Linked DNA regions of Homo sapiens. The protein of the gene in region 1 interacts with the protein of each later gene in a biochemical or structural test. Each region holds a gene or a part of one and is shown in the gene's direction. Other genes may lie near its edges. The genes, in order: AGO3, TRPV4, TNRC6C and TNRC6A.

What was found.
Region 2: the proteins of AGO3 (region 1) and TRPV4 interact in a test that uses a peptide from one of them, tested with the Homo sapiens proteins (one study listed by BioGRID).
Region 3: the proteins of AGO3 (region 1) and TNRC6C form a complex in vitro, tested with the Homo sapiens proteins (one study listed by BioGRID).
Region 4: the proteins of AGO3 (region 1) and TNRC6A form a complex in vitro, tested with the Homo sapiens proteins (one study listed by BioGRID).

The regions. Positions count from the first base shown.
Region 1 is NC_000001.11:36,038,499-36,046,660, forward strand, and holds part of AGO3 (protein argonaute-3), read left to right. Parts: intron 1-1,291; coding exon 1,292-1,486; intron 1,487-1,808; coding exon 1,809-1,943; intron 1,944-4,948; coding exon 4,949-5,050; intron 5,051-8,162.
Region 2 is NC_000012.12:109,829,918-109,838,291, reverse strand, and holds the start of TRPV4 (transient receptor potential cation channel subfamily V member 4), read left to right. Parts: upstream 1-4,893; 5' UTR 4,894-4,942; exon of another isoform or gene 4,943-4,944; intron 4,945-8,374. UniProt on the Homo sapiens protein: Non-selective calcium permeant cation channel involved in osmotic sensitivity and mechanosensitivity. Activation by exposure to hypotonicity within the physiological range exhibits an outward rectification.
Region 3 is NC_000017.11:77,961,355-77,969,516, forward strand, and holds part of TNRC6C (trinucleotide repeat-containing gene 6C protein), read left to right. Parts: intron 1-8,162. UniProt on the Homo sapiens protein: Plays a role in RNA-mediated gene silencing by micro-RNAs (miRNAs). Required for miRNA-dependent translational repression of complementary mRNAs by argonaute family proteins.
Region 4 is NC_000016.10:24,732,306-24,740,467, forward strand, and holds part of TNRC6A (trinucleotide repeat-containing gene 6A protein), read left to right. Parts: intron 1-8,162.

The DNA.
Region 1 (8,162 bases):
CCCACCTCGGCCTCCCAAAGTTCTGGGATTACAGGCGTGAGCTACCGTGCCCGGCCTGGATTTATTCTTAAGTAGCGAGATACCTTTCAAGGGAAAGAAATGGTCAAAGTTCCATTTTTGAAGCATGACTTTGGTATAGGTTAACTGGAAGAAAGGGTCTGGAGGCAGTGACCAGCTCTAGGCTCTGATCAGAATAATGTTATAAGTTCATGCTTTGAGGTCTCTTCTCCAAAGACATAACAATATTAGACACAGAAAGAGAAATTAATATAGCTAGTTTCAAAACCAAGATTAACTTCTCTGAGGACCAGATACAGAACACAAATGCAGCTCAATAAGACTGTATAGATTCAGGCCAAGAGGGAAAATTCTGATTTTAAAATTTATGAAGCGTAACAGTTCTAAGATGAAGCTAAAGTCTTAAGTATGGCTTCTGAGATAGGTTGCTAAAGTGGAAGAGATAGGAAGAAAAATCAGTGGTTTGAATTGGTCCTTGTTTTTTCTTATTTCTTTTCTCTTATTCTCTTATACACATCTTTTTGTCTTTTTCTTTCCTTACTAATCTTTAAGTCTACCAACAACACAAAGAATCTAATTGTTAAATGTATAGTTCAGCCTAGTTATAGGAAAATAGTTTTTTACCCTATACTAGGTGTTTTATTCTGTTCTTCAACGGGAAGTACTATTCTTTTTAATTTTTTAAAAAGATGGGGTAGGCTGGGTGCGGTGGCTCATGCCTGTAATCCCAGCACTTTGGGAGGCCAACGCAGACGGATCACGAGGTCAAGATATCAAGACCATCCTGGCCAACATGGTGAAACCCCATCTCTACTAAAAATACAAAAATTAGCTGGGGGTGGTGGTGCACACCTGTAGTCCCAGCTACTCTGGAGGCTGAGGCAGGAGAATCGCTTGAACCCAGGAGGTGCAGGTTGCAGTGAGCCGAGATTGTGCCACTGCACTCCAGGCTGATGACAGAGCAAGACTGCGTCTCAAAAAAAAAAAAAAAAAAAAAAAAGAGAGAAAGAGAGAGAGATGGGGTCTTGCTATTTTGCCCAGGCTGGCCTTAAATTCCTGGGCACAAGTGATCCTCCTGCCTCAGCTTCCTGAGTAGCTGGGACTATAGGCACATGCCGTCATACCCAACTCAGAATTACTATTTTTGATTACTTTCAAAGTAAACAGTGATGAACAGGTTACAGTAAAATAAAAATGTAAATGAAATTCATGTAATTTTGATTATCATTTATTTTTATTTATTTATTTATTTATTTTACTTTTTCTAACCTAGGTTGTAGGTAGTATGGATGCACACCCAAGCAGATACTGTGCCACAGTAAGAGTTCAGAGACCCCGACAGGAGATCATCCAGGACTTGGCCTCCATGGTCCGGGAACTTCTTATTCAATTTTATAAGTCAACTCGGTTCAAGCCTACTCGTATCATCTTTTATCGGGATGGTGTTTCAGAGGGGCAGTTTAGGCAGGTTGGTTACCTAGAATCTCATCAGACTATGGTGAAATCAGATATTGTGTTTATAATATGGTGTCTAGTTCTAGAGTTAAAAACCTTGTTAGAGTTCCCCAAGTCAAAACTTGGTGTTTTGTTAGATTGTCTTTTTGAAAATGTTCACTACGAATGTGTATGCCTTGCTTGCTAAGACCATGTTCTAATAATCGTTAAAATGGAATCTATTAGCTATAGAGTGGTGAAATTAAGGAATCCTGAGATTAAATCATTATCCTACTTTGAAGTATATAAAAACAAATAGCTGACTATATTGAATCTTTCCATTTCATATTCTCTAGGTATTATATTATGAACTACTAGCAATTCGAGAAGCCTGCATCAGTTTGGAGAAAGACTATCAACCTGGAATAACCTACATTGTAGTTCAGAAGAGACATCACACTCGATTATTTTGTGCTGATAGGACAGAAAGGGTAATCTCACCTCTGTTGTAATACTGTTATAAACCAAGCTTATCCAACATAGTTCATAGAGCATTCAACAAGGGCCCTCTGCCAACAGCAGGATTTCCAATATATAGTAGCAAATTTCAACAATTACATTATGAGTATAGAAGCATCAAAATAGATTATTTTTAACTTTCTAGAATTTCTAGTCACACTCCAAATATTCAAAATCTCATTCTACTTTTTTGTTGTGAAGAAACTCATGGTTTTAAAATTATTCTTCTATTCATATTTTCCTAAAATCTTCAGAAAAAACAGTACATTCTCTTTTTAAAATATCTCATACAAATTAGTTTTTTAAAAAAGTGGAAATTCAGGCCAGGCACAGTGGCTCACACCTGTAATTCCAGCACCTTGGGAGGCCAAGGCAGGCAGATCACTTGAGGTCAGGAGTTCAAGACCAGCCTGGCCAACACGGTGAAACCCTGTCTCTACTAAAAATACAAAAAATAGCCAGGTGTGGTGGCGCACATCTGTAATCCCAGCTACTCGGGAGACTGAGGCAGGAGAATCACTTGAACCCAGGAGGCAGAGGTTGCAGTGAGCCGAGATGGTGCCACTGTACTCCAGCCTGGGCAAGAGAGCAAAACTCCATCTCAAAAAAAAAAAAAAAAAAAAAAGTGGAAATTTATACAAACTAACTTTTAGCCATGTTTCCTTTAAAGTTCACAGAATTATTTTATGCATTTTATAATGTGAATGTATATTTTTTATAATTAGGAAGGAAAGAGAGGTATAAATACCTAAGGAAATATGTTTTCTTTTTTTTTTTTTTTTTTTTTTTTGAGACGGAGTCTCACTCTGTCGCCCAGGTTGGAGTGCGGTGGCGCGATCTCAGCTCGCTGCAAGCTCCGCCTCCCAGGTTCACGCCATTCTTCTGCCTCAGCCTCCTGAGTAGCTGGGACTACAGGCGCCTGCCACCATGCCCGGCTAATTTTTTGTATTTTTAGTAGAGACAGGGTTTCACCGTGTTAGCCAGGACGGTCTCGATCTCCTCACTTTGTGATCCGCCTGCCTCGGCCTGCCAAAGTGCTGGGATTACAGGTGTGAGCCACTGCGCCCGGCCAGAAATATGTTTTCTTATCTGTGTGCAGCAAGACAGCAGTCTTACTGTCATTTTCAGTGCTCTGATCACATCTGCCCCCATCCTGTAAATCTTGGAGCAGAGAAATCTAATGATACCAAGTGTTGTTTCCCCTTGAGAAAGGGATTTGATAGAAAGGACTAAGAGAGGGGTGTTTTTCTTTGCCATACATACTCACTGTATTCCTTTGGGCAAGCAACTTAACATCTCTGTGTCTGTTTATTTCTTAGCAAGATTGGATAATATTAATATCTACCTTATTTGGGTTGTCGGGAGAATTAAATAAAATACGTAATGCACTTAGAACAGGGCTTGGCCCACACTAAGTACTCAGTAAAGATTGGCTAGCTCTCATTAGTAGAGTGATGAGAACAAAAAAAAATTAATAAATAAAGTTTGGCTAGCTGCAGAGTGGTGGTGATAGTGGTAGAATAGAGAAGAAGAAATAATAATAGATATTGTTCTAAGTATTGCTTATAAATTTCATCAATTTAATCCTCACCAACAAGATTATGAGATAGTTGTATTTTTTTGTTTTTGTTTTTTTTGACAGTTTTGCTCTGTTGCCCAGGCTGGAGTGCAGTGGCATGACTTTGGCTCACTGCAGCCCCCACCTCCTGGGTTCAAGTGATTGTCAGGCCTCAGCCTCCTGAGTAGCTGGGATTACAGGCATGTGCCACCACACCCGGCTAATTTTTGTAGTCTTATTAGAGGCAGGATTTCACCATGTTGGCCAGGCTGGTCACAAACTCCTGGTTTCAAATGATCCGCCCACCTCGGCCTCCCAAAGTGCTAGGATTATAGGTGTGAGCCATCACACCCAGCCTACAACTTTTTGTATATATTAATTAGAAGATTTACGTGTTGCTAATTTATTAGAGTTAAGTATTTTTTTAGGACCAGGCATAATTTAGTAGATTATGAACTGTTTTGTTTTGTGCTTGGTAAAGTGAAGCTGGTTGGTCCACACCACTATAATTCAAGGTACTACCTTATAACAGTCACTCACGTGGCAAAAATATTATCTGAGTCAGTAAAATAGTTTCTGATTTGCTAGCCTTGTAAACCTAGACTTACAGTTAATGATTTTAAATGTGTTGGGATAAGGCGGTGGAGGTGGGTATAATAAACATTTTTAAGTGTTTTATAAGGAGCTTGTATCATCAAGAATTTTGGGTCATTTCAGTTATATTATATCCACTCAGAGAAAATCATGGTGTCCTCTTACAAGATGTTGAAACTGATAGTATGAAATAAAAGGAATAAGGCCTTTGCAATTATTTCATTGTTTGAATCCCAGTTCTGCCCTTTATTGTGTGCTATTGAGCAAATTATTTTGTATTCCTGAGCCTTTATTTCCCTAAACAAATGGAAATAATCCCTAACTTGCAGGATTGTTACCAGGTTTTAGAAATAATGTGTTCAAAGTGCCTGATCCATAAATGGTTAACAAATGGTGTGACTGTTGTTGATCTTGTCAGCATTCTCTCTCTCTAAACATCTAGTTTTCTCCAAGGTAAATGCTGATCTTCATAAATCACACGTTCAAGAATACCTACTATGCACAGGTACCATAAATTGGAGCACTTTAAGTTAATTTAAAAAAAATTTTTTTTAGTGTCTTCCACCCATAGTGGGGTCAACTATCAGCTAAGCAGTAGTAGAGACTGTATTAGGTTTTGTTGTGTATCAGCGCTCACTTTCAGCAACATGTAAGAATAGGAACTAGGACCTGCGTAGTCTGCTCTGAATGACTGCTTAAGTCATATTTCAAGGTGAAAGTAGTGAAATGTAGGATCAGCCTATGTATTCATACATTTTTTAAAGTGCTTTCAGATATATTTTTACCTTTTTCTTGTTTGTTTAAACTTTAACCAAACAAATCTAGGTTGGAAGAAGTGGCAATATCCCAGCTGGAACAACAGTTGATACAGACATTACACACCCATATGAGTTCGATTTTTACCTCTGTAGCCATGCTGGAATACAGGTAAGCCTACACTTTGGGTAAAATATTTTAATTCAAGAACTGTCATTCTTACGTGTATTTTTTAAATCTCAGAAAAAGGATAAAGAAATACTCTTTGCATTCCAAATTGTTTCCACATGAAATTAGATGAAACTTTCAGTAAACAAATGTCTTCCCTTTCCTTACCTTGAGAGGGGCTTAGGAACTTATTTTTATGAAAATACCAGAATATAAGTAGTTTAATAGAATGAATCTCCCTAAAACAGGCCCTTAATTTCACTAAAATGTTAAAAAATGTGAAAGTACCTGATTGTTCCTTTAGCATATGCATCTTTAAAAAAAAAAGAGAGAGAGAGAAAGAGAAAGCACTATTTTGCTCAGGCTAGACTAGAACTCTTGGGCTCAAGCAGTCCTCCCACCTCAGCCTCCCAAGTAGTTGGGACAACAGGCCTCCACACTCAGCTAATGACGATAACATTTTATAGAAAACTTTGACATGTACTAGTAGTATTAAGCATGTGAAAGAGTTTAATTGGGCTGGGCATGGTGGCTCACGCCTATAATTCCAACACTTTGGGAGGCTGAGATGGGCAGATTGCTTGAGTTCAGGAGTTTGAGACCAGCCTGGGCAACATAGAGAAACCCCGTCTCTACAAAAAATATAAAAATTAGCCAGGTGTGGTAGCACGTGCCTGTAGTCTCAGCTATTCAGGAGGCTGTCGTGGGAGGATCACTTGAGCGCGGAGGCAGAGGGAGGTTGCCATGAGCCAAAATCATGCCACTGCACTCCAGGCTAGGTGACGGAGCCAGACCTTGTCTCAAAAAATAAAAAAAAATTTAATTGTAGAATTACAGCTTTAGTTTTTTTTTGTTGTTGTTGTTGTTTTGTTTTGTTTGTTTGTTTGTTTGTTTTTGAGACAGAGTCTCACTCTGTTGCCCAGGCTGGAGTACAGTGGCATGATCTCGGCTCACTGCAAGCTCCGCCTCCCAGGTTCAAGTGACTCTCATGCCTCAGCCTCCCTAGTAGCTGGGATTACAGACTGAGATTACTGGGTGCCACCACACCCAGTAATTTTTTTATTTTTATTTTTTCTAGTAGAGACAGGGTTTCACCATGTTGGCCAGGCTGGTCTCAAACTCCTGACCTCAAGTAATCCGCCCACCTTGGCCTCCCAAAGTGCGGGGATTACAGGCTTGAGCCACTGCACCTGGCCTTAAGTTTCAGTTAAATAATTTAAAAAGTTTTTCTTATTCTTTCCAGAAAACCTTTTCATTAATGTGTTAGCTTTACTTGGTGGAACATAAGCTTTAAATCAGTGCATCTCAAACTTTCCAACAACAAAAAGTAAACTGACATTCCCAGGATGTCTGAGAGTCTATAACCCAAAACTATTTTAGGTTACTTGCCATTATTGATTAAGATAGAAATTTCCAGATGTACCTTACCATACAGCTCTGTATCTTATAGCTTTATATGTCCCACATATACGAACCTGTTTCAGATTCATGGCTTTAAATTATTGTCTGACTCATTTATCCATGTTCTTATATCAGCTCCTCTTTACAATTAATGTTGTACATTTTCAGGGTTGGTGGTTAATGGGAGGTCCAGAGGAAGTGATGTCAGCAAGATGGCTGACTAGAAGCCCCTAGTGCTTGCTCCCCTCACAAAGAAAGCCAGAAAAACAGATAAACAACTACATTTTTTTTTTTTAACGGAGTCTCACTCTGTCACCCAGGCTGGAGTACAGTAGTGTGATCTTGGCTCACTGCAACCTCTGTCTCCCAGGTTCAAGCAATTCTCCTGCCTCAGCCTCCCAAGTAGCTGGGACTACAGGCACCCACCACCATGCCGAGCTAATTTTTGCATTTTTAGTAGAGATGGGATTTCACCATGATGGCCAGGCTGGTGTCGAACTCCTGACCTCAGGCAATCCGCCCACCTCAGCCTACCAAAGTGCTGGGATTACAGACATGAGCCACCATGTCCGACCTTTTTTTTTTTTGAGATGGAGTTTTGCTTTTGTCGCCCACGCTAGAGTGTAATGGCGTGATCCCAGGCTAGAGTGTAATGGCGTGATCTCAGCTCACTGCAATCTCCACCTCCCAGGTTCAAGCGATTCTTCTGCCTCAGCCTCCGGAGTAGCTGGAATTATAGGCTTCTGCCACCACACGCGGCTAATTTTTATATTTTTAGTAGAGATGAGGTTTCACCATGTTGGCCAGGATGGTCTTGAACTCCTGACCTCCGGCGATCCACTTGCCTCAGCCTCTCAAAGTGCTGGGATTGTAGGCATGAATCACTGCACTGGGCCAAACAACTATATTTTAATGAAAATAACTGAGGGAGAGCCCTGGAGTGCATCAGAGGAGTAACAGAAACCCTGGTGAGCACAGAAACTCGGGATGACCACACAGAGAACAGAAAGAAACACTGAGCCTCCACTACTCCATCTCCAAATCAGGATCAGCTGGGAACCAGGAGGAACTTCTCCCTGCAGTGAACAGATAAGCAAGAGGATCCCAGCAATCCCCATCAACACCTTGGACACCTACACTGGGGTCCCCAGCACTGTTCTTAGGCACTAATCCCATCTTGGGGAGTTGCCTGGAGTCCACATAAGTGTACCCTCCCAACCCGAGAAAAGGAGCTGATACTGTGCTCCACCCACTGTGGTCCAAGCAGCTACTGCACTACTCCATCTTGGAAGTGGAACTATAGCTGGGATATGTCTTGCTCCAGGGGCAAGTAGCCATGACTCCTCTTTATTGTTAAGGCTATGCTATCACCAAATTACTCCAGCCCAGTGGCCTGACAGCCCTGTCGAGCTGCAAGCACCTGTTACACCTTGTGCCTTGGCCATTTAAAGAGATCATACCTCGGCCAGGTGCGGTGGCTCACACCTGTAATCCCAGCACTTCGGGAGGCCGAGGCGGGCATATCACCTGAGGTCAGGAGTTTGAGAACAGCCTGGCCAACATGGTGGAACCCTGTCTCTACTAAAACTACAAAACAAATTAGTTGGACGTCATGGCGCGCGCCTGTAGTCCCAGCTACTCCAGCCTGGGCAACAGAGTGAGACTCAGTCTCTATTTAAAAAAAAAAAAAAAAAAAAAAAAAAAAAAAAGAGGT
Region 2 (8,374 bases), on another chromosome or scaffold:
TTGCCAAATAGTATTCCTTTGTGTGGATATACTGTGTTTGTTTATCCATTGAGAATTTGAGTTGTTTTCTTTTTTTGGCTATTATGAATAATGCTGCTATGAACATTCAAGTTTTTCTATGGACGTAAGTTCTCATTTCTCTTGGCTATATTTCTGGGGTGGAATTGCTGGGTCATATGGGAACTCCAGATTTTTTTTTTTTTTTTGAGACAGGATCTCACTCTGTTGCCCAGGCTGGAGTGCAGTGGCACAATCTCAGCTCACTGCAGCCTCTGCCTCCTGGGCTTAAGCAATTCTTGTGCCTCAACCTCCTGAGTAGTTGGGATTGCAGGTGCCCACCATCATGCCCGGCTAATTTTTGTATTTTTTTTTTTAATTAGAGATGAGGTTTCACCGTGTTGGCCAGGCTGGTCTCAAACTCCTGGCCTCAAGTGATCCTTCCGCCTTGACCTCCCAAAGTGTTGGGATTACAGGCGGGAGCCACCGTGCCTGGCAGTAACTCTAGATTTAATATTTGGAGGAACTGCCAGACCGTTTTCCATAGCAGCCACTCCATTACACATTCCCACCAGCAGTGTGCGAAGATTCCAGCTTCTCCACTTCCTCATCCACACTTATGGTCTGTCTTTTTGAGATCATATTCTTTTTTTCTTTTTTTCCTAGACAGGGTCTCACTTTGTTGCTCAGGCTGGAGTGTAGCTGCCTGAACACAGCTCACTGCAGCCTTGACCTCCAGGGCTCAAGTGATTCTCCTGCCTTAGCCTCCCCAAATGCTATGATTACAGGTGTGTGCCGCCGCACCTGGCCAGGAAAATATTCCTGCTGGTCATGCTACACTGTAGAGTCTGCTGGGCTTGGGTTCAAATCTTACCAGTTGTGGGATGATCTCAGACAAGTGGCCTCTTTGTGTCATTATCTATAAAATGGTGGAAGAATTCCTCCTTTCCAGGCTGTCAAAAGATGAACTGAGTTAGTGGCAGGATCAGGACTGTGCCAACTGTAAAGTGAGGTGCACGTGTCTTGTTTTTATAACTGGGTACCCTGGGTATAAAGTCCCTGAGATCCTGACCTGTCTGGCTCACCAATCTCTCCCCAGCATCTGGCACTGGACCTGGCATACAGTAAGCACTTGGTAAATGCAGACCCTTGGCTGCTGCCCAGGAACCTTTCTTAGGGGAGGTAGCTGAGTCCACCTGGGGCAGTCCAGGAGCTACGTGGAGAGCAAGGCTGCGCCCCACATGTGGCTGCCACATGACTCACAGCCAATGCTGAGGGCCTTGAAAGTTTTTCCTTCCCTAAGAGGAAACATTATTTCTGGCTAGGCACAGTGGCTCATGCCTGTAATCCCAATGTTTTGAGAGGCCAGGTTATGAGGATCACTTGAGCACGGGAGTTTGAGACCAGCTTGGGCAGCATAGCGAGACCTCACCTGTACAAAAAATAAAATTTAAAAAGCCAGGCTTGGTGACACACACCTATAGTCCCAGCTATTCAGGAGGCTGAGGCAGGAGGATCGCTTGAACCTAGGAATTTGAGGCTGCAGTGAGCTATGAGCAGGCAACTGCACTACAGCCTGGGCTACAGAGCAATACCCTGTCTCTCTCTAAAAATAAAAAAAAAAAGATTAAAAATTAAACTTAAAAAGTATATTCATATTGTTGTGTGACCCTCGTTCATCTCCAGAACTCTTTGCATCTTGCAAAACTGAAACCCTACGCCCAACAAACAGCAACCTCCCATTCTCCTCTCCCCCAGCTCCATCAACCAGGACTTTTTTTTTTTTTGAGATGGAGTCGCTCTCTGTTGCCCAGGCTGGAGTGCAGTGGCACGATCTCTGCTCACTGCAACCTCCCTCTCCCAGGTTCAAGCAATTCTGTCTCAGCCTCCCAGGTAGCTGGGATTACAGGTGCCCACCACCATGCCCAACTAATTTTTGTATTTTTAGTGGAGACGGGGTTTCATCATGTTGGCCAGGCTGGTCTCGAACTCCTGACCTCAGTTGATCTGCCCACTTCAGCCTCCCAAAGTGCTGGGATTACAGGCATGAGCCACTTCGCCTGACCCATCAACCAGTATTTTTAAAGCACCTACTAAGTGCCAGGTGCTAGACCTGTGGTCATGAACACGTTCCCTTGCTTCATGGACACTGGTACCCATTTTTTAGGTGAGGAAACTGAGGCACAGAGAGAGAGGGAGGCTCTTGCCCACAGCTCCCACCACAGCTCCTTCTCCCATCAGCGGCAGGGCAGGATTTGAACCCCAGTGTCTGGTGCAGAGGCCAAGCTCCAGCTGCTTAGCCCAAGATGAGTCACTTCCCTACATGGGGGCCTCAGTTGCCCCATCTGTGAAATGGGGATCAGGAAAGAGCTGGGTTAGTGATGATGATGCTGAGCGCTCAGGCCCCTTCCCTCTGAGCTTAGAGAAGAGGAGGTCGCCATCCCTGGCCCCATCTCCCCCAGTTCCAGTCCCCAACATCAGCTGCCTTATGGCTGGAATCACCCTTGCCATTTTCTTTAAATTGAGACAGGCCTTTCTGCAGAAATGGGTCCCAGACTCACTCCTCCACTCTCAACCTGGCCCAGCCCCAGCCCCAGCCCTGAGGGCCCCCAGCAGATAGCTGTCTGTCAGGGAGGTGTGAGGGGCCCTGTGTTTACCTTCCTCTCCACTGCCAGACATCTGCCTGTTTACTCCGGACCCTCAGAGGGTTCTCTTTCCCACCCCAACCCCCACCATGGAGGGAGCAGCTTTTGGAGAGGCCATACTCCTCTCCAAGCCTCAGTTTCCCACTTGCAAAATGGGTAGAGCAAACCCTACCTCACAGCCTGTTCTCCCTCTCATCCCCTAGGCTTCTGTGCTCAGTGAGTTAATTATTAGGGTTTGTTTCTTTGTAAATGTTTCACGCTGGAGGTGAACACATCACTCCTATTCAGGGGTACACACACACACACACTCTCTCTCTCTCTCTTTCGCCTCCCCACCCAGCAATTCTAAAATTTCACTTTCCAGCTGTTGGACCTCAGGAGAGATGCTGCTATTTTCAAGCTGAGGAGGAAGGAGCTACCCCACAGTCCCTGAGTCAGCTCAATTTAGTGAAAACACTAATGATGAAAATGGCATGGCTCTGGGCCGGGCACGGCGGCTCACACCTGTAATCCCAGCACTTTGGGAGGCCAAAGTGGGTGGATCAACTGAGGTCAGGGGTTCAAGACCAGCCTGGCCAACATGGTGAAACCCTGTCTCTACTAAAAATACAAAAAATTAGCCTGGCGTGGTGGCGCATGCCTGTAATCCCAGCCCCCAGGAGGCTGAGGCAGGAGAATCGCTTGAACTCAGGAGGCAGAGGTTGCAGTGAGCTGAGATCACACCCCTGAACTCCAGCCTGGGCGACAGAGTAAGACTCTGTCTCAAAAAAAAAAAAAAAAGGGCTCTGCACAGCCTGGATGCTCCCAGCATCTTCACTGCGACTGTGAGGTGAGGACTTTTGTATGCCCCACTCTACAGGGGGATGTAGAGGCACTGAGGCACAAAGGTGAAGGGACTTGCATAGGGCTGCTGGGTTAGAGAGTCACAGAGCCAAGCTGTGGGCCTGCTAGGCTTTCCAACCACCCTGGAGGAAGTGAGCTGCCCATCCTGTGGAGGTATTCAAGTGGACTCAGTGCTGGGTAGAGGGTATGGCTATGTGTTGGGGCCCACCTTTGTTATCTGATAAAAGAAAATACATGGGTAGGTGTGGTGGCTCATGCCTATACTCTCAGTGCTTTGGGAGACTGAAGTGGGAGGATCACTTGAGGCCAGGAGTTGTAGACCGGCTGCCCTCCCCCACCCCCCCTTCTACAAAAAAATAAAAATTAGTGGGGTGTGGTGGCGCATGCCTGTACTCCCAGCTGCTCAGGAGGCTGAGGTGGGAGGATCTCTTGAGGCCAGGAGTTTGAGGCTGTAGTGAGCCGTGATCATGCCACTGCACTTCAACCTGGGTGACAAAGGGAGAACATGTATCAAAAATAATAATAATAATAAAAAAAATAAACAAAAACGCATTGAGCCAGGCACGGTGACTCAGACCTCTAATCCCAGCACTTTGGGAGGCCGAGGTGGGTAGATCGCTTGAGCCTGGAGTTTGAGACCAGCCTAGGCAACATAGTGAGACCCTATCTCTGCAAAAAATTTAAATAAAATTAGCCAAGCATGGTGGTAGGCGTCTGTGGTCTCAGTTACTAGGGAGGCTGATACGGGAGGATTGCTTGAACGCTGGTGGTTGAGGCTGCAGTGATTCCTGATCACGCCACCGCACTCCAGCCTGGGCAACAGAGTGAGACCCTGTCTCAAAAACAACAGCAACAAAACATTGATGGCCTACTCCGAGGCAGGCTTCGCAGTAAGCACTGGGTGAAGACCAAGGAGAGCAGCTCACATTTATTTACCCCTGAACCATCTCTATGGGCCATACCCGAGGGTAGGGACCTCCTTCAACGCCTCGGAGGAAATTGTCTGCTGAATGAATGAATGAGCAAACACGTGGAGGACTGGGCCGGGACGCCCATTTAGAGACTAGGACACAGTCCCAGGGCGGCCCGAAGTCACGGAGCAAGATCGAATCGGAGCCGATTCCAACTAGAGCCCTCTCCAAAGACCGTCTGCCGCTCTATCCGGGGATCGCGACACCCATTTTCCAGGCGAGGAAACTGAGGCCCTGGCCCTGCACCTCCCCCGCAGGGGAGGCCCTCGCTGGGCGGGCGGGGTGCGAGTAGGGGCCGCCCCTTCTAGGGCCTGCGCTCGGCGGGGTCCGCGAGCCGGCGGGTGGGCGGGGAGCTGGCCGGGGGCGGCGCGCGGCTGGAACCTGAGCCGGCGGAGGAGGGACCCGCGGGCGGACGGGCGCCGGGCGGGCCGGCCGGGATTCAGGAAGCGCGGATCTCCCGGCCGCCGGCGCCCAGCCGTCCCGGAGGTAAGTGGGGCCCGGGCCCGGGAGGGGCGGCTCAGCCGAGGTCCCCTCGCGCCCCTGGGGACATCTCCGTGGCCCGTCCGGCTCCGGGGGGTCCCGAGGCTCCAAAATGCGGGCCAGGGGCGCGGGAGACGGAAGGCACCAGGTTCCGCAGGCGCCAGCCTCTCAGCTAAGTGCCCTTGGGCCGGACACCGGCTCTTTGGGTCTCGGTTTTATCACCTGTGAAATGGGCACCAACGTGGGGCCTGGGGTAGCAGGTCTGGGGGGAGGGCGGTTCGGTTCCCTGAGACCCCAAGCCAGGGAACCAAAGGCCCGGAGCCTTGCAGCCCACCTTAGGAGACTTGGAAGAGGGATTTCGGGGGACCTAAGGTTTGCCCTTGGCCCCTGAGCATGTCGGAGGGAATTTGGAGTCTGGAGCTTCCAAAGGCTTCTTCTTGGTTACTGAGTCCCGGAGAGACGGCTGTTTCCTCCAAGAGGCATGAAAATCTTTAACCTCTAGTTCTGCCCTGGACTCTCAGGACGTCCCGGGGGCGGGTGGCTCCTGGGGGTGGGTAGCGGGGGTGGGGGTGGGGGAGAGAGAGACTCCCACACTCCCCGCTTGCCTGGAAACACCAACCACAGATGCATTCATCGAGCCACCCACTGCTCCAGCCTGCCCCAGCTGTTCCCTCTGTCTGTCCTCTCTGTTTTGCAGATGGGGAAACTGAGGCTTAGGTCGGGGATCTAGACAATTGGGATTTAAACCCAGGGACTATCCAGCCCCAAAGCCCTTCCCACCACACCAGGTGGCCTGTCCTGGGGCCAGCTCTGCACACAGGGCCTGGTGCCCCCGGGGTGCTTGGGAAGTGGCAGGGCAGAGGTGGGCCCTGTGGCTGTTCTGGCTCAGCTTCTAAAACAAGAGCCTCTGCTGGGGGCAGAGGGGCCGTGAACCCCTGAAATGTTAGGCAGATACCCTGTGGGAGCTTTGTTCTGGGATGCTAAGAACCGCTTGAGGATTTAAGCTTTGCCACTTTGGCTCCGGAGCAAGGGCAGAGGGTAAGTCGGGACTCCCCGGGCTCCTGAGGAGGGTGACGAGGTGGGCTTTTGGGGGAACAAGGGTAGAAAGGTCAGGCCTGGGTTATCTGCGGGGCTAAGAGCGGGCCTGTGTGGGGCCCGGGGTGTGCTCTGCAGTCCCCTGCTGTGTGACCTTGGCCTGGTCCCTTAGCTGTCTGAGCCTTTGTGTTCTCTCCTCTGTAATACTGGGGTGCCTGAGGGCAAGCCCCCAGGGCTGTCGTGAGGACCGATGACCTTCCAGGAACCTGGCACAGCCACTGTTGGCTGCCATCAATGTTTAACCAGTTGTCGTTGCCCCAAACATTTTCTTAACAAAGAGGGTGAAAAAAGTCAATTGGCCATTTCCACATTTCTCTAGTTCATTCTGTTTGAAGAATGATGGGAACCAGAAAGCCTGGACACCCACCTTGATTGGTGAATTGCACGCGGAAGGGGTCCCAGACACAAATGGCAAATGGCAGTCATAGTTCAGGGCGGTTCACTTTGTAAGATCAAGGTGGGGCTGTTTTGAAATGGAGGTAACCAGGGAATGGTTGCCTGAACAAAAAGGGTGTGATGCCCCCAGGAGGGATGTTTCACATGAGCTCCGGTGAGGATGGCTGGGATTCCCCAGGTGAAACCCAGATACCTTATATCTGGGGAAGGGGCTGTGGAGGTTCCTCCTGCCTTATCTGGTGCCAACTGGGCCTCTGCCACTTACTCCCTCCTCCAGCAAATGCTCTCTGCAAGCTCACCTGTGCCAGCTCTGGGCTGGGCACTGGAGCAGTGAGATGCTTCCAATCCCAGCTTCGCTGTAGCCTGAGGCGTGTGAAGGCAAGAAGGATTTTCCCTTGTGGCCCCCCGGGGAGGAGCTCCCACACCTGACTTGTGAGCATCTAGCAAGGTGTGCATGGATGGCCGACGCTTAGTAAATGTATGCTGTGGAATGGATGGGGTCAGGGGAGAATGCCGTAGGGTAGGAGGACTGGCCCAGGAAGGACCCACGAGGGCTTGGTCAAGGTAGTGTTTAAGCCGCACCTTAAAGAATAAATGCAGAAGTAGAGGAAAGAGTATTCAGGCAAAGAGAATGGCACTAGCAGAGATATGACTTTTACCTGTTACCAGGTGGCTACACCTGGGGTTTATAGAGCAGAGAAATAGTTCTGTTTGTCTGGAGTTTGTGACGTGACTGGAAAGGGTGAGGGATCAGACAGGCAGGAGCTAAATCAGACCCAGAGGCCCAGAAGTCCTGCCTGGGAGTGACACGGTTGTTTGTCTGTTCTAGAAAGGTCCCTGTGGCTGCAGAGTGGGAAAGATTGGAGGAGCTCAGACAGAGAGGCTGGCCCCAAGGCTGGGGAAGTCATCCAAGCTCTGAGTGGAGAGCGGCAGCTGGAAGGAGATGTAGGAGGGAAGGAAACACACAAGACTGAGCCTCATGTGCCTGGCACATAGTAGGTGCTCAGTCAGTATCTATGGCATGGTTGTCTGAACAAATACTTTTGAGATGGTCAAAGTCCTTTGAGTTCCTTCCTCTGTTCCTAGGGGGATGGGGTCTACATGAAGTGGGTGTCTCTACTCCATGCAGGCCCTTGACCCTGCTGTCTGCCTCAGTTTCCCCCATTTGACTTTGGGAAAGACACTCCAGTCCGTTCTCCAAATTATAGGGACCCAGGTAACAGCTCCTCTTGTTGTCACAGATAGGGTCTGGGGAGCCAAGATAACATTTATTTCATGCCAGTGGGCCCTCTGGAATGCTCCACATCGCCCATTTGGAGCAGAATTCACCTGTTAAAGATTAATTCCGATCTCTTGAGATAAGTGGCTGCTGTTATGAACTCTGGGTACAAGGTTCTGTCTGGCTTTAGCCAACCCTGGGTTGCATTAACAACTATTATGATGGTGGCAAGCCTTTATTGAGCACTTACTGTGTGCCAAGCACTGAGTCAAGCACCCTCAGCACATTTGGATACAAAACTATTTTTGTCTCTATTTTTCAGAGGGCAGAATGAGGTCTAGAGGGTGAAATCTCTTGCCTGGGTTCTCTCAGCTGAGAAGGGGCAGAGCTGGGACCTGAATCCCATTTGTGTGATTGCAAATCCATCCCTTCACCTGTAAGGTGGCCCGTCCCCATTTGTCTGGACCCTCATTGGGGTGCCTGGGGTCATGGGGGAGCTACTCTGCAGTCCAGAGATAGGAACCTGAGTTGGCCGGGTGCAGTGGCCCACACCTGTAATCCCAACACTCTGGGAGGCCAAGGCAGGTGGATCGGTCGAGCCCGTGAGTTTGAGACCAGCCTGGGCAACATGGTGAAACTCTGTCTCTAGAAAAAATACAAAAATTAGCCGAACGTGGTAGCACGCACCTGTAGTGCCAGCTACTTGAGAGGCTGAGGTGGGAGGATCG
Region 3 (8,162 bases), on another chromosome or scaffold:
CATGTTGGCCAGGCTGGTCTCGAACTCCTGACTTCAGGTGATCCGCCTGTCTCGGCCTCCCAAAGTGCTGGGATTACAGGCGTGAGCCACCACGCTCGGCCGGTTTTACTTTTAAGGTATGAAATTAAATACGGTTGATACTGAGACTGTCTGTCATAAGGTTTAATCTTAACAATTTCATTTCGGATTCTGCCATTTAAATATTCTGGTAGTAACCTGGAGTATATGTAAGTGTTGGTTTTAGATTTTCGTCCTTCGTGTTTATTGCGGGGGGCGAGGGTGGGTTTCGAGTAGCATATGTCTTAACACTAACATCATTTCGAAACAGGTTTACATTTATATTTAGTTGGCTTAGGAACTTTGGAGTAAATAGTTGCCTTTAGAATGCTGATTGTGAAGGTAGAGTGGAATGAACTGTTTCGTTTGACATTCGGTGATTAAAAAATAACTAAGTCATACAGAGGATATATGAAACTAAATACAGTATTTTTCATCACCGCTACCGCCACCTTTTTGTTAAACAGCTGGCTTTCCTGAGATACATTTGTGCTTTTCCAAATGCTGTCATCTGGCTTACTTCCAAAACCAAGCCAGAGGAGGGTCAGGGCTGGAGTAGGACAACCTTTCTCCTTAATGAAGGGAGTTTCCAGTTTGGAAAGAAATGGAAGACACAGTTCCTGCAGTGCTGGCTGGGAATGAGGTATTTACATTACCTCTCCAACCCCAATTGAAGGGGATGAGGTCTTGATTGTAACTTAGTCTTGCTTGGCCCAGGAAAGTGATGCTAACTTGACATTTTTTAAAAAAGACTACTGATGAAAGTTAATTGTTTGATTTGAGTATATAGAATATCTTTGGCATCGTAGAAGTTCACCAACAACCTTTTAAGATTGAAAAACCATTTAAAAGACTATTTGGGGGTCTTTTTGGCCTTCCCCAATAGGAATTGGAGCATTCGATTGCATGCTTATGCTTTGGATGACTGTTTATCTTTCAGTCAGGGTTTATTGTGCAAAGGTGATACTTAAGATTTTATAAGAAAGAAAATCGTTTGGCTGTGAACTCTAGGCTGTCCCGTATACCAAAGTAAAACACATGGGACAATTAAGATTTGGGGATAGAGCAAGCAAAGATTACCAAGAGCAACTGAAGCTGGTGGAGAAGGCACAAGAAATGGAGAGGAGGAGACAGGAACAGATTTATAGACGTCCTTGGAGCTGGCAGAAGGATAGGTTGAGGGAGCAGGAGGCGGAGTCCTGAACAGACTGAGCGTGAAAGGGTCTATATAAGCTGGGAAGAACCAGGTAACTTTATGTTTGTTTTGTTTTTGTTATCTTCCGTTGAACTTGTTTTGGCTTCTTTCTCATAATTTTAAGACATGGGTTTTTACCTTTTCTCCAGCTCTATCTCAGAGGGTCTTCAAATATTTTAGGTGAGAAGTAAGGAAATATTTTGAAGTGTTGGTGACACAGTCTTTGGTCTCTCTTGCATGACAACTGGTCCCAGTGAAGGTGACTGGATTTTAGTTACTTTAGATAGTTAACATCTTAATATTTTGTTTGAAGATGTCATAGATTTGAGTAGGGACAGCAAAATATCAGGTGAGAAGTGGCTCCTATTTTGTAGGGGGTAGATTGTACAGGTTTTCTTGCTTTTACTCAGTCTATGGCTATCCAAATTTATACAAATGAGTTTTTAAATAATTGTGTGGTCACGAGGAGAGCATTCTTTATAAAATGATATACAATAAGCTTTCTTTAAATAGACTTTAATGCAGTGGAGTCCATTTATAAATTTTCAGCTTATACATAACTTTTTAGGAATATAATTACTTAAAAATGTAAAGGTTACTTGTCAGAAATAACTATATAACCTTGTGCAGAAAGTGTATATCTGAAATTGAAACTGAGAAATGTATAATCTTAGCCAGTGAACTTGTTTGAATAACCCGATTAAAATAATGGTACAGTTTCCTATTGTACAGATCGTGCATTTGAAATGTTAATTTATTTAATGAAAAGTAAATTATGTAATTTTAAAAAATCTCCACCTGGGATATATATAACAAGGTTTTACATGTTTAAAACATGCTGAAAATCCATATCGTTTGTTCCATTTTTGGAGTTTTACTAAAAATGAATTCTTTTCTTAGCTTTAGATGTTTTCAGAGAATGAAGAAGCTATTGCAGGAATGGAGAGCTGTTTGTTAAGAATGCATTCCTCCTCTGTAGCCTTCAAAAGACTATAGAGCTGTGTGCAGAGCTAGACAATCTGGGCATCCAGCCATAAAACATCACTGCTGTAGCACAGATAGTTGTTCGCACTCTCCTGAGCCCTCTGTGGCTGCAAACCACAACAGAAGTAATGGTCTTGGGAAAGGAACACTCAATGTTATTTTGAACTCTTAATATTCTCTGTGTCTCTCTGAGTTCCAGCTATGCATTGGAACTTTGGTTTTCTAAAATATAGTAGTGATTAAGGATGAGCAATAATATAGCTTCTTAAGTATATTCCTCTTGTAAGCCAGTGGATTTAAATGTTTGCTCTAGGAAATAAGGGGTGTCTAGGAAATAAGAGTTGTCTGTCCCACCATCTTCCTCTTTATTTGCCTCTTTGTTGCAATACTTCTTTTCTGTTGGAGAACCACTGCCCTAAGACCCATATGATCACTGGGCCACACACAGTGCACATGGCCCAAAGAGTCATCTGGAATCTTCCAGATATTTTGTGGGATGGATTGGTCTAATTTGGCCCAGTTTCCACTTTCTCATGAACCTTTTTGGCATAACAAATTTTTAATTTTTTTGCACAAAAATGAAGAAGAGTGTGACTGGCATCTATTTGTATAAATCCAAATGGTTTACTCTGAAGACCCTCTCTGTTTTTCTTCTTCAGACCATTTTAGAAATTAATACTCTATTGTATCTTTATAACTTCCTTCTCTGAAGGATTGAACTACAAACCTATAGTATCACAGTGTCAAGTTGAATTATTCTCAGCAGTTGGATAACTCTTGTCTGTGGTTGAGTCCTTTACTAATGTGCAGACTGTCTTTTGACGTGGCTAATACCAGATGCAAGTTGGTGCCCAGGTGGTTATTGGGAATATGTGCTTTGTTTGATTCATTTTATGTGTGCCTTCTAGCTTATTAAGAATAAGATCTCTCACAGCTAAAATCAAGTGCTTGGTTTGAGCCTGGCAAAGATATTGTTTACTTTTTTATTCCCAAAGATCATTTCTTTTTAATTACTCTTTTAGGAAGCAGGGAAAATCTCAGTGAAAATAGCAACTGGGAATTAAACTAAGATCTGAAACTGGGAAATGGCAACGCGGGCACAGGTGTCACCTTTCCAACTGTTGTTGAGATGATGTGGACAACGGTTATTCAGAAATTACAGTGGGGAGGAGGGAGATGCACAAGTATTTTTTCTCATACTCCATATGAAATATGAAGTGCAGAGTGAGGGGCCCAGAGTGTAGGGAGGGAATTTAATAGGCTTTGTTCTTCAGGGGGCTATGGCTGATGTCTTAAACAAGGTCTTTTTTGGTAGGGAGGCACAGTAAGGGAAGAAGGTGATGGATTTGTGGGAACAAGTACATTTGAGTCACTGAGGACAATTGGGAATTGTGAAGTGGGAGTGGACGAGGTTAGAAAGCATCCTTAGGTAACCAGATCTCCATTTAAAACTAATCTGAGCATTTACAATGTGATTATGTGCCAAGGACATGAGTTTATCTTATTTAATCCTCACAACACTCCTGTGAAGTGGTTGCTTTTAACATTCCCATTTTACAGATGAGCAAAGGGAGTAATTTCCACAAGATCCTATAGCTTATAGGAGATGAAGCCAGAATTTAAACTCAATACACTTCAAAGCCCTCACATATGGAAAAAGCTTGGATTATTTTAATAGCTGCTTAATGAGTCTCTTCCTCTGTTCTGTGTCCTGCTATCCAGCTGCCAATATTAACTGACTGCCTTCTGAGCACTTTGTGTGTATGATCTCATTCATTTCTCCTCAGCAGCTTATAAGTTAGGAGCTGTGATTATATTCACTTTATACATGGAAGCTGAAACTGATGGAAGTTGAATAATTTGCCCCAAATCAGAGCCTTAATAAATGTGTCTAGGTCCTTGGAAGCCAGAGCTTGAGCTCTTTATCATTCCGCTGTGCTGCCTTCTGAAGCCTGAGCCTGATTACATCATTCCTTCCACAAAACCTTTATGTCTTCCCTGTGCAGCGGCCACAGGGGAAGGACATCAACTTCTTCCTGCCCTCCTGGAGCTGTCTTACTAGTATAGTGAGAGAAATGGGCACCAAACAAGTTGTTAAAAAAAGAGAGAAAGCAATACATGTGAAGAACGCCACATACACATATTAAAAAGTTGACAAAAACCTAAGGTAATAGATCATTATATAGCTGTATACTGGATCTCCTCTCTTAAGGACGCATGTCAAAATTTTGGATGCTCTGAGAACTCCAGCAGTGAAAGAAATATGTTTACCTTTATTGGCCCAGTATTTCCCAAACTTATGTGGCCATTGAACATTGTTTTCCCTTCATACCACTTTTTAGTTCAGTGGGACTGACTTTAACAAATTCAGAAAGGAAGAGTGCCTGGTCATCCCCAGAGAGGGCCTGTGGGCTGCAGTGGTTAGGCAAGACTTCACTTGAAATGAGTTCTGAAAGGCTGGCAAAGCTTGGTTGGATGAAAGGGATATTCTACAAGGAGACGAATGGGCAAGCCATGTTTGGAAATATTTTGTAAAGCGCGTAACATAATGGCTGAGACATAGTAGGGACGGGATATAGTTATTGACTGGATGAGTGCAGAGGCCTAGCTGTAAATGGAGGTTCTGTGTTGGCAATAAGGTTTAGAAGGGGCTCTATCAGGTGGAACCTCTAGTTGTTGGCTCCTTAGGAACCGTTGGTGGCTGTTGGTGGGCATGACATGAATCAGGTGTTGGATTAGAATCTTCCTTGAGCAGAGGTATGGTGTTAAAACTGGCTGTTGTAGCTGTCTGTGCAAGGTGATGCCTACATACTGGTAGGGTCAAACTGAAAAGCTGTTACAAAGAATCAGCAGGATAAAATAATACAAAATGATTGACGTGGGTTGTTGGAAAGAATGAGTTCTAAGAGGCATAGGGTACTTACTGCTCTTCCTAGAATCTGCCACAGAGGCTTTAAATTAATGAAGCTAATATTAAGATATTTGGTTAAATACACATAGTACATTCTTTTTAGATGCTGATGGGGAAAGATGACACACAAGATAGTAGTTTTAGGCGAGTTTATTGTATGAGGTTGTGTTCTGCAGTAGAGATTTGACTCACAGCATAAATCCAAGTATGTGATGAGCCATGTAATAATAGACGTCTGCTGTTAATTATGGTGGATACTCTCAATGAAATCAGATTTTCTTAGGGCCATACCCATAAAAAAATTCTTGACCTAGATCTTATATAACAGTCCCAGGTATATAGTAAATTTTATGCATATGGAATGTTGACAGGAAAGAAGAGAAAACAAAAATCTTTAATGTTTCAAGGAAGCATAAGATCAAATCATTACATAAATAGAATAGCAGCATTAGTAATTGTGTTGAAGTTACTAGAATTTTTAAATTTTAGGTAAACTTAAGAGATTCCTTAAACTTAAGGAATAATAGATTCTTTTTTACTCCTGTAGAGTGGGGAAACTTTAAAACAGATAAAAATATTTTTTATTTTATCAGTCAGGTGATGAATGAGGATCTTAGCCACTGTTGGACTTTTGTGTATATGTAGTGTGGCATTTAATTGAGCATTGTTATTTATTCTTTTCTATCAACTTTAGACTTTAAATTTCAGCACATTTCCTTGCAGATTAATGCTTTGCAAAAAAAACTTCATTATCATGATAATTTCTTAAGATTTGAGTTACTTATTAGCAGGGATAATAACATGTTCATCTTTGTAATCCCTACATCGTCTATAGTATTTTGAAGATATTTAGATAACAATCATCTGTTTCTTCAGAGATATTGCTTCCACAAGTCATGCGGGGGGGGAGAGAAGATTGATAATTGAACATGTTTCTTCGGTTTTTAATCTTTTAGAATAACGATCAACTGTGTTTTCAACTAGTAAGCCTGGTACGTGGGGCTGTATCTGCAGATTTGAGGGGAATTGGGAAGCTGACAGGTGAGGAACAGTCATCATAGGGGCTCCCTGCACTACTGTTTTCTGTAGGGTACCTGAAGGAGTGGCTAGTTCCTTTTCCTGAGGCCTCTGGGCACTGCCAATAAGTGCCACTGACCCAATCATGAAAAAACAATGTGTGACGCTTCTCATGCACAACAAAATTGTAGGTATGATAGATCAATTACAAGGTAATTCCTGGCTTGTCTTTCACAGATTTGATGATGGTCTTTAGATACTAGCCCATTGGAAAAATGAGTGTTATGACTAATGAGATTATTCTGGCCAAGCCAGAATGTCTGGTTAGCATTATTCTGGATAGACTTATATCCCGCCCTCCTTTAGGGAAAACTCTCTGGAAATAAGAGGATTTTTAAAAAGAGATTGTCAGTATTCTTTTTCTTGAAATCAATTTATGTTTACTCATAATTTCAGTACTCCTTTAAAGGTTACTTTATAAAAATTTGAGATGTAGTTATTATTCTTATTATTCTTATTCTTATTCTTATTTTGAGACAGAGCCTCGCTCTGTTGCCCAGGCTGGAGTGCTGTGGCATGGTCTCAGCTACTGCAACCTCTGCCTCTCAGGTTCAAGCGATTCTCCTCCCTCAGCCTCCTGAGTAGGCGGGATTACAGGTGCCTGCCACCACGCCCAGCTAATTTTTTGTATTTTTAGCAGAGATGGGGTTTCACCATGTTGGCCAGGCTGGTCTCAAACTCCTGACCTCGTGATTCGCCCACCTCGGCCTCCCAAAGCACTGGGATTACAGGCGTCAGCCACCGCGCCTGGCTGAGATGTAGTGGGTTGTTGTTGTTGTTTGAGACGTAGTCTTGTTCTGTCGCCCAGACTAGAGTGCGGTAGCGTGATGTCAGCTCACTGCAACCTCCGCCTCCCGGGTTCAAGCGACTCTTCTGCCTCAGCCTCCCAAGTAACTGGGACTACAGGCGCCCGCCACCACACCCAGCTAATTTTTGTATTTTTAGTAGAGACAGGGTTTCACCATGTTGGCCAGGATGGTCTCTTATCTCCTGACCTCAGGTGATCCGCCCACCTCGGCCTCCCAAAGTGCTGGGATTACAGGCGTGAGCCACCGTGCCCGGCCCGAGATGTAGTTATTTAAATAGCTTATGCACATGCCTATTTAGCCTTGGATGGCAGAATTTTGATTGGGTAGATCTTAAGTCTTCAGAAAATGGTTTGTTCTCTTTAACTTGTGATTTTCCAACTAAATCTTAAATTAGTGAACGTGAGTTTAAAAATTCAGCCTTTAGGAACACTCACAAAAGTTCTCATTAGTTTCTCTTACTTTTTATTTGTCTTTCCCACAACCTTTCCCCCCTGTTTTCCCACTTGCCCTCCTGAAACTGCACTTGAGAGTTGGGAGTAGAGAGAGACCTGGTTTGAGGCAACAGGGTGAACACAGCGTTCTTTCATTCTGTGTACTGTTGTGACGCTAAGCCTGTTAGCGTTGAGATACCAGCCCACAGCTGGTGAAAGGATTCCAGACTTCATACTGGCAGTTTATTGAGTGCCTACCATGTGCCAAGTACAGAGCACTTAATATGTTATTTCATTTATTCTCCTTAATAAGAGGAGAACACTGAGGCACTCTGAAGAAGCCAGGTCACCTAATTCCATTGGCTGTGCTCCTCACCGCTCTATTGCACTACCTCATTCAGACTGACTGAGGTAGTATAATTTCCATTATCTTTAATAAATTTTTTTTTTTTGAGGCAGAGTCTCGCTGTCACCAGGCTGGAGTGCAGTGGCGCAATCTCGGCTCACTGCAACCTCTGCAACCTGGGTTCAAGCGAGTCTCCTGCCTCAGCCTCCCAAGTATCTGGGATTACAGGTGCCCGCCACCATGCCCAGCTAATTTTTGTATTTTTAGTAGAGACGGGGTTTCACCATGTTGGCCAGGGTGGTCTCGAATTCCTGATCTCAGGTGATCCACCTGCCTCAGCCTCCCAAGGTGC
Region 4 (8,162 bases), on another chromosome or scaffold:
AAATCAAGGCATTGTATTCATTGAGTAACCATTTTTTGAGCATTTTCGATATTTCAACTGTGGGACTGGGCACTAAGCCAGGGAAGAATGTAAGTAGTTAAATTTATTGATTGCTTACTATGTGCCTGGCACACTTTTCCTAAGATTTTACATGGACTCATCTGATCCTTGAAAAACCCTGTGAGGTAGGTAGTATTGTTATCTCCGTTTTACAGATGGAGAATTTGATGTATAAAGAGGTTAAGTAACTTGGAGGAGACCATATCACTGGTAATTGGAGTAACTTTTTAGGCTTCGAACTTGCAAAATTTGAAAATTTCTTTTGGTAGGCGGGACCCACAGATGCATGCAATACTTCTAGATCAGTTTTTTCATCTGGGCACTTGACATTTTGGACCAGATAATTTATTATTTTGAGGGTTGTTCTGTGCATCACAGGATGTTCAGCATCCGCAGTAGCACTCCCCGTCCAGTTGTGACAATCACCAATGCTTCCAGATATTGCTAGATGTCCCTGGGAGTGGCGCAGAATCGACCCTGGCTGAGAACCACTGCTCTAGATCTTCATTAGGAATTGTAACGTGAAAGCCTCCAAACTTTTAGATGTTGAGTTAATTTAAACATCTTTTGGTCGAGTGCTGTGGCTCACACCTATAATCCCAGCACTTTGGGAGGCCAAGGCAGGTGGATTGCTTGAGGTCAGGAGTTCGAGACCAGCCTGGCCAACATAGTGAAACCTCATTTTTACTAAAAATACAAAAATTAGTTGGGCGTGGTGGCATGCGCCTGTATTCCCAGCTACCCGGGAGGCTGAGTCAGGAGAATTACTTGAACCCTGGGAGCGGAGAGCCGAGATTGTGCCACTGCACTCCAGCCTACTTGACAGAGTGAAACTCTGTCTGAAAAAAGAAAAAAAAATCTTTTAATAACATGGAAGCCTAGACCCTATTATGTAGATCCTCAATTTGGAAGCCCTGGTTTCTGAATGTCAAAGATGTGTTGCCATTCTCCTTTTCCTCTGCTAAGCTGCAAATCCTCAAGACAGTGTGCCTGGTAGCCAGTGCCAGTTAAACAACATTGGCACAAATAATAAATTTAGTTTACTATCATAGGTAAACTGTCTTTTAAAATTCACAGTTGGCCATTAAAATTGTCACATTATGTTAGTATCATGGGAGCCATAATATCTACATGAGGGCGATTACCATTAGAACTGAACTTTGAAGAATGGAATCAGTTTTGAAAGGCAGATAAAAGGGCATTGTAAGAACAACAACAGAAGTAAGGACACAAAAATCCAGAAAGTACAGGAGATTTTGATATTGCAGTGGGTAGTTCAGGTTATATAAGGTATTTGTAGCAAACTGGTTAAGGCCAGATATAGAGGTTCTTGAATGTCAGGTTGAGGAACTTGTGCATAAATTTTTAGGTATGGGAGCTATTGCATGCTTTTTGTTGCGTACTGATGTGATAGAATAATCTTCTGGTCTGGGATTACTAACCAGGTGTATTTATGGGAGAAAACTAGCGATCTAGGCAAGAAGCGATGGAGGCCTGAATTGAAGTGGTGGCAAAAAGAGGTGAGTGAGGCTGGACCCAGTGGCTAACGCCTGTAATCCCAGCACTTTGGGAGGCCAAGGCAGGAGGATTGAGCCCAGGAGTTTGAGACCAGCCTGTGCAACATGATAAGACTCTGCCTCTACAAAAGAATTTTAAAAAATTAGCTGGGTGTGGTGGTGTGCACCTGTAGTCCCAGCTACTTGGGAGGCTGAGGTGGGAGGTTTGCTTGAGCCCAGCAGTTTGAGGCTTCAGTGAGCTGAGTTTGTGCCACTGCATTCCAGCCTGGGAAACAGAGTGCAACCCTGTCTCAAAGCAAAAAGAGAGAGAAAGGAAAAAAAAGATGAGTGTATAAGATACTGAGGAAGTTAAGAATCTGGGATTTGACAGCTGATTAGGTGTCAGAGGAGTCAAAAATACATAGGAATCTTCATCATGGGTGAATGAGAGTTTGACCCAACCTCTGAACAGAACAAGTCAGAGCAGAAATAGGAGTTTGGGGAGAGAAGATGCTAAGTTACATTTTGCAGTTGTAAAAAAAAAATCTACCAGTACTGGTCTAGACCAGTAGAACTCAGCTGGTCTAGTCTGAAAAAATATTTTGGAGGCCAGAATCATAGAATCATTGAATATTTAGAGCTGGACTATGACTTTAGATAGAGATCAGCCAGCATTCTGACTTCTTCATTTCTCAAGTGAGAAAGCTGTGGTTGAAACAGATTCAGTAACTTACGCAAGTTTATATTCTCTGTCAAGTGACCCAGCTGGGATTTAAACAGGCCTTTTGACTCTAATTCTAGTATTCCTCCCATGTGCAGTATTTTATTTTATATTGCACAATAGATAAAATATAATTTTGGTTTCTCCTTTTTTATTCTAAAAGAGTAAAAGCAGTTATCTCAATATGTTATGTTCATTCTAGTGATGACTTTACTATCATGTACTAAATGTGTTTTGTTTAAAGTAGAAGTTAACTTCACGTTATACTGATTTGTCCCCCCATAAACCAACTGTATGTCATCATATAACAAAAGTTGTTAAAAGTGCTATATACCATATAATGTTGCATCTAAACTGGGACACTTATCTGAGATGCTTTTGCGTGGGACAAATGCTATATTAGAAATGACTAGGACTGGCCAGGTGCAGTGGCTCACACGGGTAATCCCAGCACTTTGGGAGACTGAGGCACGTGGATCATTTGAGGTCAGGAATTCAAGACCAGCTTGGCCAACATGGTGAGACCCCGTCTCTACTAAAAGTACAAAAATTAGCTGGGTGTGATGGCATGTGCCTGTAATCCCAGCTACTTGGGAGGCTGAGGCAGGAGAATCTGAACCTGGGAGGTGGAGGTTGCAGTGAGCCGAGATTGTGCCACTGCGCTCCAGCCTGGGCAACAGAGTGAAACTCTGTTTCGAAAGAAAGAAAAGAAATGACTAGGACAGCAGGAGTAAAACCCCAAGGCATTAGGTCTCCGTAGCTAAGGTGGATCCCACTCATGCAATTCATCAACCTTTGTCTGAAAAAAAAGAAAGAAAATCTGATTTTGTTAAGCTTTTCTTTTGCTTTGCTGTGATACGGTTTGCAGGCCAACACATGCATATTGCTATAGGTTGGTGCGAAAGTTAATTGTGGTTTTTGCTCATTTTTAATGTACCAACCCAATATGCTTTTTTTCCAGCTTAATTTGGCAATTAGGTGGTAAATCACTTGATAGGATAAATTAATCACAATCTGTAAACTTAATTTAAAAATGTGTAACAACCCTCTGTGGAAAATTTGAATATAAACATCAAAAGAATACCATTCTGTAAGCTCTTTTGATTTTTGGCATCTGAAATGTCTGAAAGTATAAATTGCAAAACATATTTACAATTTTAATGACAACTGCAAAAGTATTGCCCATGATTGGAAAGACTAAAATGGTATGCGTTATATGTATTCTGTTCAGGCTGATGCATGATAAATCTCTCACTGAAAAAACAGAAATCCCTATCTCATTTTAAAATTTTAAAAAATTGGCCGGGCACAGTGGCTCATGCCTGTAATCCCAGCACTTTGGGAGGCCGAGGTGGGCAGATCACTGGAGGTCAGGAGTTCAACACCAGCCTGACCAACATGGTGAAACCCCATCTTTACTAAAAATACCAAAATTAGCCTGGTGTGGTGGCACATGCCTGTAATCCCAGCTACTTGTGAGGGTGAGGGAGGAGAATCGCTTGAACCTGGGAGGCGAGGGTTGCAGTGAGCCGAAATTGCGCCATTGCACTCCAGCCTAGCCTGGGCACAAAAGCAAAACTCTGTCTCAAATAAATAATCAATCATTCTAACCTTAAGCAAAATTGGAAAAATGTTGCAACTAATACCTGTATCTCTTTACCTAGTTTTAGTGATTATTAATATTTTGCCACATTTGTTCTATCGTGACATTGCACACCAAAGTATGGCAGTAGGTATCTCACAGAATAAGGGCATTCTACCTGACAGCAATCAAATGATCACCCACAGGAAGTTTAACTTTACAATTCTGTCTGGTCCCTATTCAGATTTTCCCAATTTTCTCAAAATTTTTTTTAAAGTTGTATTTGTTCTTTCACTCAATTGCTGTATCCTGGGTTGCATTTAGTTGTGTCTGAAGTTTCTCTTACATTAGGAGCATTTTCCTGCCCTTTTCTGCTTCTCTCTTGACAATGACATTTTGAAATAGTCCAGTCTAGTTGTTTTTGCAGACTGAAATTTGCATTTTTTGGGTCTTGTCTGTATGATTAGGTTCAGGTTGACCCTTTTTGGCAGGAGTATCCCATAGGTGATGATGTGTTTGTCTTCAGTATTCCCTCCCCACAGCATTTTGAAGTAAATTAACCGAAAGGTTATCCAATATTCTTACTTCTACACTGACTTGGTGTTTCTTTCATTTTAGGAAATGCCAAACAATTGGTTTAAACCGAGATGTAATTTTAAATATTTGAGGTTACAGTAATTACAGGTCTTTGTATTTAAATCGATCAGCCATAATGATTACTGCTTTTATGAAGATTTATGCCAAAGGTAGCTCCCTTACTGTGGGACATAAAAGTTGCTTGTTTTCAGCTTTGACCAGTGATGAACTGATAACCCTGGTAGGAAAATGAAACATTGGGGCTGGGCTTGTAATACGCTTTCTTAAAAGAATGCCCCATTGAAATTAGAGTGGCACGGTGCCACCAGACCAAGGGTTCTCATCCCGATGCCACAGAGGGACCACAGGTGTTATGAAGTGGTTTGCAAAATTGAATGTATGCCAAAATAAAATAATAAAAATAAAAATAAAACCCCACAACAAAAGCAGATATGGTCTTTAGTGCTCATTAGATCTCAAAGGGTCATTACTCCTCAAAGATTAAGAAACTGCTTCTTTATGAGGAGGTTGTCAGAGGAGCTGAATAGTATCAATAAGAGGAAGATGTTTGAGATTCAAAAGGAAGTAATATTCGACTAAGGCATAGCTTCTTTCCATCTTAAAAAAAAGCCACCCATGAAAATAAATATAGTTTAAATTTCCTATTTAAGATGTCTTATTTTAAAAATGATTTGCATACTCTGTGTGTTTGAGTTGGCTATGAAGGAGAAATCCTAGCATTTCCACTCTTGTAACTAGGGAAAAGCATTTTGAATTTTTAGCAGTAGTATATTATGTGATGATGACTCAGCTGACTTCCCGTTTCAAATGGAATGTTCAAAACAGATTGAAACCTGGTTGAAGAATTTTATACTTTGAACCTTACAAGATATTTTCTGCAAACAGTGACTGATTGGATTTTGTATAATAACAAACAAGATTAAGCCAACTCAGTTGTTTTGCTGTTCTTATTAGTGGTTTTCAGTCAGGGAGCACTTATTGAGCAGTTTGCTGCAATAATATTGAATATTTTTAGAGTTATGACGTCTGTGTTTTGTTGACTTTGGTCCCTTCTTTCTCCCATTCTTTTGAAGTTTCCCTAAAACATGTGTGCACAGACGGGAGAGAATGGTAGTTAAGTGTGTGCTGATTTTAAATGTCCTTTTAAATATCATTTATTCCTTGATAATTGACTGTATAACTGATGTAAGAGAAATATGTTTTATATGTTATTCCACTTGTGAATCTCTTTGCAATGTGAGGCATATAGTGAAAATCTTACAAAGATAGGGTCATAAAATGTGCATTCTCTACACTGCTGCAGGTTAATCGTCCTCGAGCCACGTTTCTGAGGCCTGTCAGTCACTATTTCTTAGAAACCTTTGTTGGCTCCTTCCCAGTGACTCTGGAATTAAAGCCCAGACTCTTGTTTTTTGCTCAGCTTATCAATTTAGCACTGTCCCTTCCACCTTTTGCCCTGTCCCTAACTCTTCCTTCTCTGAATGTACCTTTCAGTTTCTCTCAACTTTTAAATAACAGCTTTATTCAGATAAAATTCCCATATGATAAAATTCACCCTTTTAAAGTCCACAAAGTGTATGATTTAATGGTTTTTAGTATATTCACAGAGTTGTGCAATCAGCACCACTGTCTAATTCTAGAATTTTCACCCCTTCACCCAAAAACCCCATAATAGCAGCCACTCCCCATTTGTCCCTTCCACCCAGCCTCTGGCAACCACTAATCTACTTTCTATTATAACTCTATGGACTTACCTATTTTCGTTTAAGTGGAATCATACTATATGATACTTTTGTACGTGACTTGTCTTATTTAGTGTAGTGTTTTCAAGGTTCGTCCATCATGTCGCATATATCCTTTATTCCTTTTTATGGGCAAATAAATTTCATTGTATGGCTATTGCCCATTTTGTTTGTCCGTTCATCAGTTAATGGGCATTTGGGCTGTTCTAACTTTGGGGCTATTATGAATAATATTGCTATGAACATTCATGTACAAATGTTTGTGTGGACATATATTTTCAATTCTATTGGTTATATACCTAGGGGTGGAATTGCTGGGTTATATGGTAACTTTGTTTAACTTTTGTTTGTGTTGTTTTGTTTTGTTTTTGAGACGGACTCCCTCTGTTGCCCAGGCTGACGTTCAGTGGTGCAATCTCAGCTCACTGCAACCTCCCACCTTCCAGGCTCAAGCCATCCTCTCACCACTGCCTCCCAGGTAGCTGGGACTGCAGGTGCATGCCACCACGCCTGGCTAATTTTTTCTATATTTTGTAGAGATGGGGTTTCACTGTGTTGCTCAGGCTCTGTTTAACTTTTTGAGGAACTGCCCGACTGTTTGCAAAGCAGCTGCACAGTTCTACATTCTCATCAGCAATGTATGGAGGCACTAGGTTCTCCACATCCTTTCCATTGCCAGCATTTGTTAGGGTTCTTGTTTCTGATTTTAGCCATCCTAATAGATGTAAAGTGGTATCTCATTATGGTTTTGATTTACATTTTCCTAATGGCTAATGATGATTAGCATCTTTTCATGTCCTTATTGGCCATTCGTATATCTGATCTGAGAAGTGGCCATTCAGATTCTTCTCCCATCTTTAAATTAGGTGATATTTTTTGTCATTGAAAAAGGTCTTTATATAGCTTAGATACAAGTCCCTTATTAGATATATGATTTACAGGTATTTTTTCCTATTTTGTGGCTTTTCCTTTCACTTTTTTTTTTTTTTTTTTGAGACAGAGTCTTGCTCTGTCGCCCAGGCTGGAGTGCAGTGGCATGATCTCAGCTCACTGCAAACTCCACCTGCCAGGTTCAAGCGTTTCTCCTCCCTCAGCCTCCTGAGTAGCTGGGATTACAGGCACCCACTACTATGCCCAACTAATTTTTGTATTTTTAATAGAGACAGAATTTCACCATGTTGGCCAGGCCAGCCTTGAACTCCTGACCTCAAATGATCCACCCGCCTCTGCCTCCCAAAGTGCTAGGATTACAGGCATGAGCCACCGCATGCAGCCTCTTTTCACTTTCTTGATGAAGTCCCTTGAGCACAAAAATTTAAAATTTTGTAAATCTAGTTTACCAGTATTTTTTTCTGTTACTTGTGTTGTTGGCAACAAATCCAAGGTCACAAAGATTTACTTGTATTCTAATAATTTTATAGTTTTAGTTCTTAATGTTTAGTTCTGTAATTCATTTTGAGTTAAGTTTTGCATATGGCATGAGGGCTCCAATGTCATTCTTGTTATGTAACTATCCAGTAATTCCAGCTTCATTTGTTGAAAAGACTTTCATCTTGGCACCCTGTTGAAGGTCACTTGATCATAAAATGAAGAATTATTTCTGGACTCTCAATTCTATTCTGTTGATACTATGTGTTCATCATTATGCCACTTCCACACTGTCTTGATTACTTCAGCTTTGTTGTAATAAGTTTGGAATCAGTATGAGCCTTCCTTCAAGATTGCATTGGCTGGATAACCAGAGACTAATTATTAAAAAAAAATTTTTTTAAAGATTGCATTGACTATTCTGGTTGCATTTCTATGTGAATTTTTGGATCAGCTTGTCAATTTCAGCAAAAAGGCAGCTGAGATTTTGATAGGAACAGTGTTGAATATGTAGGCCAGTGTGGACAGTATTGCATTTTATAATATTAAGTCTTCCAGTTCACGAACATGGAATCTTTTTCTATTTATTTAGGTCT